Regions from separate parts of the Homo sapiens genome. Here region 2 is linked to region 1. Evidence: fine-mapped expression QTL. A gene starts in region 1. The other region holds a variant in brackets. All regions are shown on one strand. Distances are from middle to middle.

The links. PIP is the estimated chance that this variant, and not a neighbour inherited with it, causes the effect.
Region 2: its variant is fine-mapped to the expression of DERL3 in whole blood (TOPMed, PIP above 0.99).

What each region holds. Positions count from the first base shown.
Region 1 is chr22:23,836,672-23,842,043 of GRCh38, reverse strand. It overlaps DERL3 (derlin 3), which reads left to right and starts at 3,038. Exons shown (of 7, transcript NM_001002862.3): 1 at 3,038-3,149; 2 at 3,268-3,333; 3 at 3,407-3,480; 4 at 3,599-3,692; 5 at 4,190-4,385; 6 at 4,890-4,980; 7 at 5,082-5,372. The coding sequence starts at 3,057. The coding sequence ends at 5,175. SMARCB1 (SWI/SNF related BAF chromatin remodeling complex subunit B1) reads right to left here. Exons shown (of 9, transcript NM_003073.5): 9 at 4,035-5,372. RefSeq lists a silencer at 2,813-3,115.
Region 2 is chr22:23,803,625-23,808,996 of GRCh38, reverse strand. All of the region lies in intron 5 of SMARCB1 (SWI/SNF related BAF chromatin remodeling complex subunit B1), which reads right to left. Among named protein-coding and RNA genes, the nearest start is that of SMARCB1, 19 kb to the right of the region's middle. RefSeq lists an enhancer at 5,079-5,372. The variant T/C (reference allele first, on the strand shown) is at 2,285.

The DNA.
Region 1 (5,372 bases):
AACCAAGGTTGTCTGCGGGGGTCCGCTCACCCTGCTCCCAGCCCCCAACCCCTCAGTGTCTTGGTCCAACCCCTGCTGTATGAGGCCAGACCTTCTCCTCACATCCCTCCAGCAAATGCACTTCCCTCCAGCACTCCAGGCTCTCCCCGTCCCCTCCAGAGCAGGGAGGAAGGCTCCTGAACCCACTGTCATTAGGCACTGGTCTCACCCCACTCCCCAGGGAACCCCTCTCAGGGCCCTTGTGGGACCCTCACGCTCTTGGGATCCACCTGAGAGCCTTCTCAGCCAGTTCTCCCTCTTGGCCAGTTCCAGTCTCCTCGGGGGACCTCAGGGCCCTGTCCAGAGCATCCCTCGTTTTCCACACTTCCCTCCAAGGCTGCACTCCCCTTGTTTGTTAAGGCACATCCATTTGTGTGCCTTCCTCTCCCTCCTGCCTGCCATTATCCTGGTTACCAGGAACCTTGGCATGGCTGCAATTCACAGTCCCTTCCCGGGCCACGTCTCCCTGGATTCTCACTGCCTGGCTCCTGAAGCCCTTTCCTGGCTCAGCCTCCCTTGGCCTCCCCAGCTGGGGCTGCCTTCCCTCCCTGGCTACTGCAGGTCAGGCTACCCAGGCCTGGCCTCTTTTCTCCATCAACCCTTGCCCCTTGAGCATCTCACACACGCCCAAAGCTACAAATACCATTGATCTACTACTGGATGACGGCACCCACATTTAGACTGTCTGCTCCAACCCCTACCCCAACACCACACTCAGATTTTTCCAAGTGATGTCACACAGATGCCTCAAATTCGATGAGTCCAGAACAGGACCCTCTATGCCCCTCACCTTCTCCCCACGAGCCCTCCATCTCAACAAAGACCACCACCATCCAACCACTCTGCGGCTCAGGCCTCTGAATCCACTTGGACTCCCCTCTCAGCCCTGTCCCGTCTGTAGGCAAACCCATATCCCACCCCTCCTTGTCCTCCAGGTTCCACCTCCCAGCCCCGAAAGTAATCACTGTCCCTTAAGGATTCCCCCTGCTCAAGGATTCCTCTGGCAGTCCACTACCCTGACAGCAAACACAGAGGTTTGTTGTTTTTTTTTAAATTTTAGTAACATATACACAACATAAAATTTGTCCAAACTATTTTCAAGTGTTCAGTTCAGTGGTATTAAACATTCTTATGCAACCCTCCCCACCATCCATCTCCAGAACTTTTTCATTTTCCCAAACTGGAACTGCACTCATTAAACAATAACTCCCTGATCCCCTCTCATATAAGTGGAACCATACAGTATTTGTCTTTTTGTGACTGGTTTTTTTTTTTTTGAGACGGAGTCTCACTCTGTTGCCCAGGCTGGAGTGCAGTGGTGCAATCTCGGCTCACCACAACCTCCATCTCCCGGATTCAAGCAATTCTCCTGCCTCAGCCTCCCGAATAGCCAGGATTACAGGTGCCCGCCACCACGCCCAGCTAATTTTTGTATTTTTAGTAGAGACGAGGTTTCACCATGTTGGCCAGGCTGGTCTCGAACTCCTGACCTCAGGTGATCCACCCGCCTCGGCCTCCCAAAGTGCTGGGATTACAGGTGTGAGCCACTGCGCCCAGCCTTGTGACTGGTTTATGTTACTGGGTGTAATGTCTTCAAGGGTCATCCATGCTGCATCATGTATCCGAATTTCATTCCTTTAAGGTTGAATGGTATTGCATTGCATGTAGACAGCACATTTCGTCTGTCTCATCGGTGGGTGAACTGATGTGAACCATTGTGAATAATGGGGCCATGAACATGGGTGTATGAACATCTGTTCAAGTCCCTGCTTTTGATTCTTTTGAATGTGTACCCACAAGCAGCATTGCTGGATCATACGGTAATTCTATTTTTAATTTTTTGAGTCATGATCATATTGTTTTTCACAGCGGATGCACCATTTTATATTCCCACCAACGGTGCCCAAGGGTTCCAATTTCCCCATATCCTCGCCAACACTTATTTTGTTTTATTGTTTTGCTTTTCACAGTTACCATCCTGATGGACACAGGGATGCTTGCAAAGTGACAAACTTTAGAGGTATCCCAGGTCACCCCACCTGGCACTGCGGACGCCCACGTGGCCCCACCCCTCACTTGGCAATATTCTCATCAAGTGTCAGCACTAGCTTATTGTATTGACTGCCTCCTGGCTGGACTCTAAGAGACAGTGTCTTTTATTGCATGCTACATCCCCAACATCTAGAACAGTGTCAGGCAAACAGTTGTTTAATAAACGGTGGAAGGAAGGAAGGGAGGGAGGGAGGGAGGGAAGGAGGGAAGGAAGGTGGGTAGGTTGGTTTCTATTTTCCACCAAAATATTGAGGACCTCTCCTGCCTGTCCACTTGCTCTGGTGCGCCTCTCAACCCTCGCGCCCCACCTGGACTCAATCCCGCAGTCCTGCCTCTCCTTCCTTGGGCCCCCGGGGAAGAACCCCGACAGCGGCCGGCACATTTGAGTGGGGCCCTGGACGTTTGGGGAGGTTTGGACACATTCCCGAATGCCTCCCTGCTGTGGGTTAGGTGGGCCTGTCTTGGGCTGGCAGCGAGGACAACGTTGTGGCTAGGTCGTCAGTTAGTGAGCCAGCACGGTCTGAGCCGCCACACTCCGCGCCCCGCCCACGCGCCCCGCCCTTTCCAGTTTTGCCTCGCCTGCTCGGGTCTTCGCTCCTGTAACCCATACGATCTTAGCCCCGCCCCCGTGGTGTCGTGGGTCCACGCTACTGGTCCTCTCCTAGAAAGCCGCGAAATGACCAGTTCCTCATTGGCCACACGTTCTCCCGCGCCACCACCGCAGCCACAACAACCGCCACGTGCTCAACCTTGGCGCCTGCCCATTGGCCACCAGCCTCTACCCGCCCACTCTCCCTTTCCGCCCCTAATTTCCCTCTTCTTCCTTCCATTGGCTGTCGGGCTCAGGGGCTCTCTTTTCAGCCTGGGGCGCGCAGCGCCTCGGATGCGGATTGGCCGAAGGCGGGGCTGGGAGGCGGGTTAAAGAGCGCGTTGCTGGCTGGGCCACGCGTGCTTGAGAAGGTTCAATGGCGTGGCAGGGACTAGCGGCCGAGTTCCTGCAGGTGCCGGCGGTGACGCGGGCTTACACCGCAGCCTGTGTCCTCACCACCGCCGCGGTGGTAAGCGGCCGGGCGGACCGGACGTCGCCTTGGTTACAGCCTCTGGCGGGAGGGGTGAGGGTCGCCATGGTTACGGCGTGGCTCCCGGGCAGCTCTTGACTGGCCCCTGGTTCCACAGCAGCTGGAGCTCCTCAGCCCCTTTCAACTCTACTTCAACCCGCACCTTGTGTTCCGGAAGTTCCAGGTGAGGCCGCCCCGCGCCGCGCACCTGTGGGCCCGACCCACCCACCCCGCACCTGACCGCCCGTCCCCCGTAGGTCTGGAGGCTCGTCACCAACTTCCTCTTCTTCGGGCCCCTGGGATTCAGCTTCTTCTTCAACATGCTCTTCGTGTATCCTGCGCCCTGCGGACACGGGCTGGGTGGAGGGCAGGCCGGCCGGGCTGGGAGAGAGGCCGGGACGGGGAAACTGAGGCCCCGCCTGGTGGCACTTCCTATACCGACGCCGTAGGTTCCGCTACTGCCGCATGCTGGAAGAGGGCTCCTTCCGCGGCCGCACGGCCGACTTCGTCTTCATGTTTCTCTTCGGGGGCGTCCTTATGACCGTATCCTTCCCGCAGGCTCTGGAACCTCGGGCTAGGGCGCCTCGGCGTCCAGCCTGTGTTGGTCCTGGGGCCAACACAGCCATGCCAGAGAGGGACACAGTCGCTGTCTCCAGCTTAGTATGTGTTGAGGGCCCACTCTGTGCTCAGCTGCAGGGGTCAGGGCTAGATCTTCAGTGCTGTATGCAAAATACAAAGCCATGCACAAAAGAGCCAGGTGGGTTGTCAGGGCCACTAGCTGAGCCCTGAATGCGAGTAGCCGGGAGAAACTGGGGCAGGGACAGGCAGTGGTTGGGCCCTGGGATGAGGCTGTAGGTGTGCAGGGCAGATTTCGTGGGACCTGAAGCCCGTGGAGTGTGTCGCCTTTATTGGACTGGCTCATCTTGATGAGGGAATAGCACATAGGGGAGATGAGGGGAAGAATTCCAGGGTCTTGGGAAGTCAGAGGGGCCCTGGGCTTGGGCTGAGGCCTGCACCGGAGCACCTTGACTCTGGCCCAGCTGCTGGGACTCCTGGGCAGCCTGTTCTTCCTGGGCCAGGCCCTCATGGCCATGCTGGTGTACGTGTGGAGCCGCCGCAGCCCTCGGGTGAGGGTCAACTTCTTCGGCCTGCTCACTTTCCAGGCACCGTTCCTGCCTTGGGCGCTCATGGGCTTCTCGCTGCTGCTGGGCAACTCCATCCTCGTGGACCTGCTGGGTGAGCCTCCCGGTACATCTAGTCCGCCCCAGGCTGGCCACTCCCCTCAGGACACGCTGCTTATGCCCTGGGGCCCCTCTCCCATCCTTGCTGGAGTTCTCCTCACACCTGGCTCCATCCCCATCTTCCTGCCCTCCCAGCTGCTGTGCTCTTACAGCCCCTCAAGCCAGCCGGCCCACATAATTTGCATCGTCAGGACGGATCTACTGATGCTTGCACGGTCCTGATGGGAGTGAGGATGGGAGGGTCAGGGTTCCTGCCCCATGGCTCCCACTCCTCCACTATTCTCAGGCCCTCCCCTCCCTGGGTCCTGCCTGCTTCTGGGCCTTTTAAGCTTGTCCTTCACGGCCAACCCGGGGCTGGCACTCTGTGCAAGGCTTTGGGGCACTCATGCTGTGGGGCCTGCAGGGCCACCAGGCTGTGGATGGGGGCCTGGGGCAGGCTCTGCTGGTCTAGGACTCTGGGCTGTGGAGGGTGACCCCACAGTCCGTGGCTGTCTCACAGGGATTGCGGTGGGCCATATCTACTACTTCCTGGAGGACGTCTTCCCCAACCAGCCTGGAGGCAAGAGGCTCCTGCAGACCCCTGGCTTCCTGTGAGTGTTGAGAGCCCTCCCTCCCTCTCCCCACCCTCAGAAGGATCCCCACCGATGGGGACCTGTGCTGGCCTGTGCTCAACACGGGCCCCTCCCCACAGAAAGCTGCTCCTGGATGCCCCTGCAGAAGACCCCAATTACCTGCCCCTCCCTGAGGAACAGCCAGGACCCCATCTGCCACCCCCGCAGCAGTGACCCCCACCCAGGGCCAGGCCTAAGAGGCTTCTGGCAGCTTCCATCCTACCCATGACCCCTACTTGGGGCAGAAAAAACCCATCCTAAAGGCTGGGCCCATGCAAGGGCCCACCTGAATAAACAGAATGAGCTGCAGTCTCTTGGCCCACAGCACTGGCTTCCCCATCTCACCTGGCCACATCCTTCTATGCCTGCCC
Region 2 (5,372 bases), 33 kb after region 1:
GCCGAGCACAGTGGCTCACGCCTGTAATCCCAGCACTTTAGGAGGCCGAGGGTGGGTGGATCACCTGAGGTGGGAGTTCAAGGCCAGCCTGACCAACATGGAGAAACCCCTCTCTACTAAAAATACAAAAATTAACCGGGTATGGTGGCACATGCCTGTAATCCCAGCTACTCAGGAGGCTGAGGCAGGAGAATCACTTGAACCCGGGAGGTAGAGGTTGTGATGAGCTGAGACTGTGCAACTGCACTCCAGCCTGGGCAACAAGAGCGGAAACTCCGTCTCAAAAAAAAAAAAAAAAGAATGTCCAATATCGTTCATTCCTGAACAATACTGTCACTGGGTACAGGATTCTAGATTAACAGTTCTTTTCTTTCAGTACTTGAAAAATATCCTGCCACTTGCTCTAGCGTCCAGTTTCTCATGAGAAATCTACCATCATTTGGCCGGGCGCAGTGGCTCACGCCTGTAATCCCAGCACTTTGGGAGGCCGAGGCGGGCAGATCACGAGGTCAGGAGATCGAGACCATCCTGGCTAACACGGTGAAACCCCGTCTCTACTAAAAAATACAAAAAATTGGCCAGGCGCCGTGGCTCACGCCTGTAATCCCAACACTTTGGGAGGCCGAGGTGGGCGGATCACGAGGTCGGGAGATCGAGACCATCCTGGCTAACACGGTGAAACCCTGTCTCTACTAAAAAATACAAAAAATTAGCCGGGCATGGCGGCGGGCACCTGTAGTCCCAGCTGCTCGGGAGGCTGAGGCAGGAGAATGGCGTGAACCTGGGAGGCGGAGCTTGCAGTGAGCCGAAATTGCGCCACTGCACTCCAGAGTGGGCGACAGAGACTCCGTTTCAAAAAAAAAAATACAAAAAATTAGCCGGGCCTGGTGGTAGGCGCCTGTAGTCCCAGCTACTCGGGAGGCTGAGGCAGGAGAATGGCATGAACCCGGGAGGCGGAGCTTGCAGTGAACTGAGATCGCACCACTGTACTCCAGCCTGAGCGACAGACTCCGTCTCAAAAAAAAAAAAAAAAAATTAGCCGGGTGTGGTGGTGGGCACCTGTAGTCCCAGCTACTCGGGAGACTGAGGCAGGAGAATGGCGTGAACCCAGGAGGCGGAGCTTGCAGTGAGCCGAGATCATGCCACTGCACTCCAGCCTGGGCGACAGAGCAAGACTCCATCTCAAAAAAAAAAAAAAGAAAAAAAAAGAAATCTACCACCATTCTTATTGTCTTTTCCCTACAGGTAAGTTGTCCTTTTTCTCTGATTGCTCTCAAGATTTTTTTCTTTGTGTTGAGTTTCCAGAAGTTTAATTATGATGTGTCTTGGCATGGATTGCTTTGGGTTAATCATGTTGGGCTTCACTTGGCTTCCTGAATCTATCATTTGATTTTTTTTTTTAACTTTAAAAAAAAAGTTTTTGAGACAGGGTCTCACTCTGTTGCCCAGGCTGGAGTGCAGTGGCTCAATCACGGCTCACTGAAGCCTCAACCTCCCGGGCTCAAGCTATCCTCCCACCTCAGCCTCCCAAGTAGCTGAGATCACAGGCACGTGCTACCACATCTGGTGAATTTTTGTAGAAATGGGGTTTCACCGTGACACCCAGGCTGGTCTTGAACTCCCGGGGTAAAGTGATCTGCCCACCTCAGCCTCAGGCGTGAGCAACTGTGCTCAGCCTCATTTAACTTTTTTAGAGCCCAAAACAAGCATGTGGATATAAATCTCTAAAAACTTGCCTTCTGTAGCCAAGTGTAGACACTCAGGGCCCTAATCACTCCTTTGCCTGTGTGCCAAGACAGATTCCAAAACTCTTCCTGAGGGGATCCCCTTGTTCCCCTTCTGGGTGAAGATGGCATCTATGTCCACATGTGTTCTGGTTAGGCAACTCATCTTTTCTGGAGGATTTTAATACTTCCCTCCCTCAGCAGGCTGTTAAGCCAGGTGACACCATACATCACCAGTGATTCAGAGAAGCACTACTTCAAGTCCTTTTCAGAGAAAATAACCTCAAACTCATCACAACACCTACCAGAAACCTGAGAAAAATCCTGATTCCTTTTTTTTTTTTTTTTTTTTTGAGATAGAGTCTCACTCTGTCGCCCAGGTTGAAGTGCAATGCCACAATCTCAGCTAACTGCAACCTCTGCCTCCCAGGTTCAAGCGATTCTTGTGCCTCGGCCTCCCAGGTTGCTGGGACCACAGGTGTGCCACCACATCCGACTAATTTTTATATTTTTAGTAGAGAGGGGGTTTCACCATGATGGCCAGGCTGGTCTCAAACTCC[T/C]GGCCTCAAGTGATCTTCCCACCTCACCCTCCCAAAGTGCTGGGATTACAGGCGTGAGCCACCACGCCTGGCCAATCCTGATTCTGAAGGTGGGCTGAACATACACTTCATTCGTGCTACTCAAGTACTGCTACTTCACATATTTAATCCCTCTGTGATAAAGACTCTCATGCCCACCTTTAAGATGATCTGAAATTTCAAAGCAAATCAGTAACAATTTTGGCATGGCATCTAACCACCAATTAAGAATCACAGCTCTTACAAATGCCAAATACCACCCAGAGCTGAGGAAGAGTTCGCAGAACAACACTATTTTGGTTCTCCACTGGTTAAGACTTTGTTCTAAATTACTTTCAGTGGGCATCATATTTTACATTAGAACTCCTAGGAGGAACAGCCCAGTGAAACTCACTGTGGAGTTCATGGACGATCCTGGTCTTCCTTACTATACTGTGCCCTCTTCCTGAGGGCTGTAGGAAATCTCAGATTCCAGGACCACGTGTGATTCTACTTCTTCAGAGCCACAGGCTGCTGCTAACCTTGACCACACTGAGTATGCAAATGATTTTCACGTCTCATTCTGCCTGGTTCTAAAAAGGCCCAGAGCCACGCCCAACTCCCAGCAATGTTCACCAAATAAAAGCTGAGTACGAGCTCCCTCTTCAACTTGAACATTTCCTCTTTATCCAGTTTTTCCTAACCACTCCGTTTTCATTTGCTTTAGTCATTTGGGCCCAGTGTACTTATGGTAAGCTTCCTTGCATCCTTTCTGGAACAGGGCGGGGGTATAAACAAACCAGAACTTTCTATGTGTTGCCCAAAGAAAGGTAACGAGACAGAGCATGGACTGATCCAATTGGAACACTAAGTTCCTATGCTGGGCTAGATTCTATGTTAAGAGAAACAGCAGCCGGGCGCGGTGGCTCACGCCTGTAATCCCAGCACTTTGGGAGGCCAAGGCGGGCGGATCACCTGAGGTCAGGAGTTTGAGACCAGCTTGACCAATATGGTGAAATCCCGTCTCCACTAAAAATACAAAATTAGCCAGGCATGGTGGCGCATGCCTGTAATCCCAGCTACTCGGGAGGCTGAGGCAGGAGAATCACTTGAACCTGGGAGGCGGAAGTTGTGGTGAGCTGAGATCACGCCATTGCACACCAGCCTGGGCAACAAGAGTGAAACTCCATCTCAAAAAAAAGAAGAAAAACGGCAATGAAAAACAAGGCCCCTGACCTTAAAGGGTTGAAATGGAGAGGGAGAGAAAAGAATTAACAAATAACTATGATGTGGGCCAGCAGAGATAAACGGGGAGCTTGGCAGAGATAACAGGCATTGTGCAGCACTGGTGGCCTGGTCCCCATGGGCTGTCCTGTCCCTGTTCTGGGGCATGACCAGTGAACTGTACCTGTCCCCATCTACACTCAATACAACCTCCCGGAGTCTCTTGCCAGTGTCCTCCCTCACCCATGTCTCCTCCCACTGGCGTCCCCCCTCACCAGCTGACCTGTGGGACCTACGGGACAAGCACCCGGCACATGGCTCTCAGGCCTTCTTCTCAGGGCTGAGCAGAGGCCTTCGGACTCAGGCCTGGCACTGGTGTGAGCAAGTGGTAGGCCTAGCACTCAGGCCTACCATGCTGAGCGCCTGGGGATGACCAAAGGAAGCAGCCTAATCCTTCAGAAAGCTCAAGGCAGCCACATATCAACAACCACTCATACTCTCCTCCCTTAGGAAATCCCTTCTGAGAGAAAAATGCTGCAACTACGTTATCTGCTGTGGAGCCGTCTACAGCAGGGGGAGTTTTAGCAAACAAAGGCGCCTTGACCCAGGAGAAAATGCTGCATTGTTTGAAGATTAAAGAAATCAGAAAGAGGCTGGGTGCAGTGGCTCACGCCTGTAATCCCAGCAGTGTGAGAGGCCACGGCAGGCGGATCACCTGAGGTCAGTTCAAGACCAGCCTGGCTAACATGGTGAAACCCTATCTCTACTAAAAATACAAAAATTAGCCAGGCATGGTGGCACGCGCCTGTAGTTCCAGCTACTCAGGAGGCTGAGGCACGAGAATCGCTTGAACTTAGGAGGCGGAGGTTGCAGTGAGCCGAGATCGTGCCACCGCACTCCAGCCTGGGCGACAGAGTGAGACTCCATCTCCCCTCCCAAAAAAAAGAGAAACCAGAAAGATACTTATGATAAGTGAAGAAAAATAAAACGATACTTGCTCTATAGTGACAACTATGTTAAATATGTTTGCATGTGGAATTGACAGAAAAGGTAAAACTGAAAACATTATTCAGGTGGTGAGATTCTGATGATTTTAAACATTTACTCATTTAAAAATGGTAACGCTTGGCACAGTGGTGCACACCTGTATTCCTAGCTATTTGGGAGGCTGTGGCAGGAGGACTGCTTGAGCCCAGGCAGTTCAAGATTACAGTGAGCTATGAGAGTATCACTGTACTCCAGCCTGGGCAACAGAGTGGGACTCTGTCTCTTAAAAAAAAAAATAAGTAAAATAAAGATGATATTCACTGCATTTTGTCTGAATATAAATAGTATGTTCATTATAAAAATTCAGCAGGATACAGACACTAAGTAAAAAAAAAACTGGTATGCAACAAGATCTAAAAAAACAGTAATCATAAAATAAAATAATAAAAATACATTCTAACAGACTTAAAAATAGAGAAAACAATAAATGCATGCATGATCCACCCTCCCAGATGGGATAAGCAGTCTAGACACCTGGGATGCATATCCTTCTAACCTTTCTGTCTACATTTGCACAAAGACCGAGTTCTGTCCAGGCTTTGGAAGCCCAGGAAGAGCCAGAAGAGATGGCATCTGACCCAGGACTTACAGAGTGAGGATGTCTAGAGATGACCAGTTAGAGGAGGAGAGAGGCACGGGGCACACATGCAGCCTCACACAGCAGAAGCAGAGTGGTGGACAGGACCCAAGGCAGGTGTGTGCAGGGCTCGGGGGCTGAACTAGGTCTGACTGGCATTGTCATCATCATCCATGCTATGCAGATCAGCCGCCTCCCATGCCAGGCCTCTTGGGCCACCCAACCTCAGTATGGGGAAAGAGT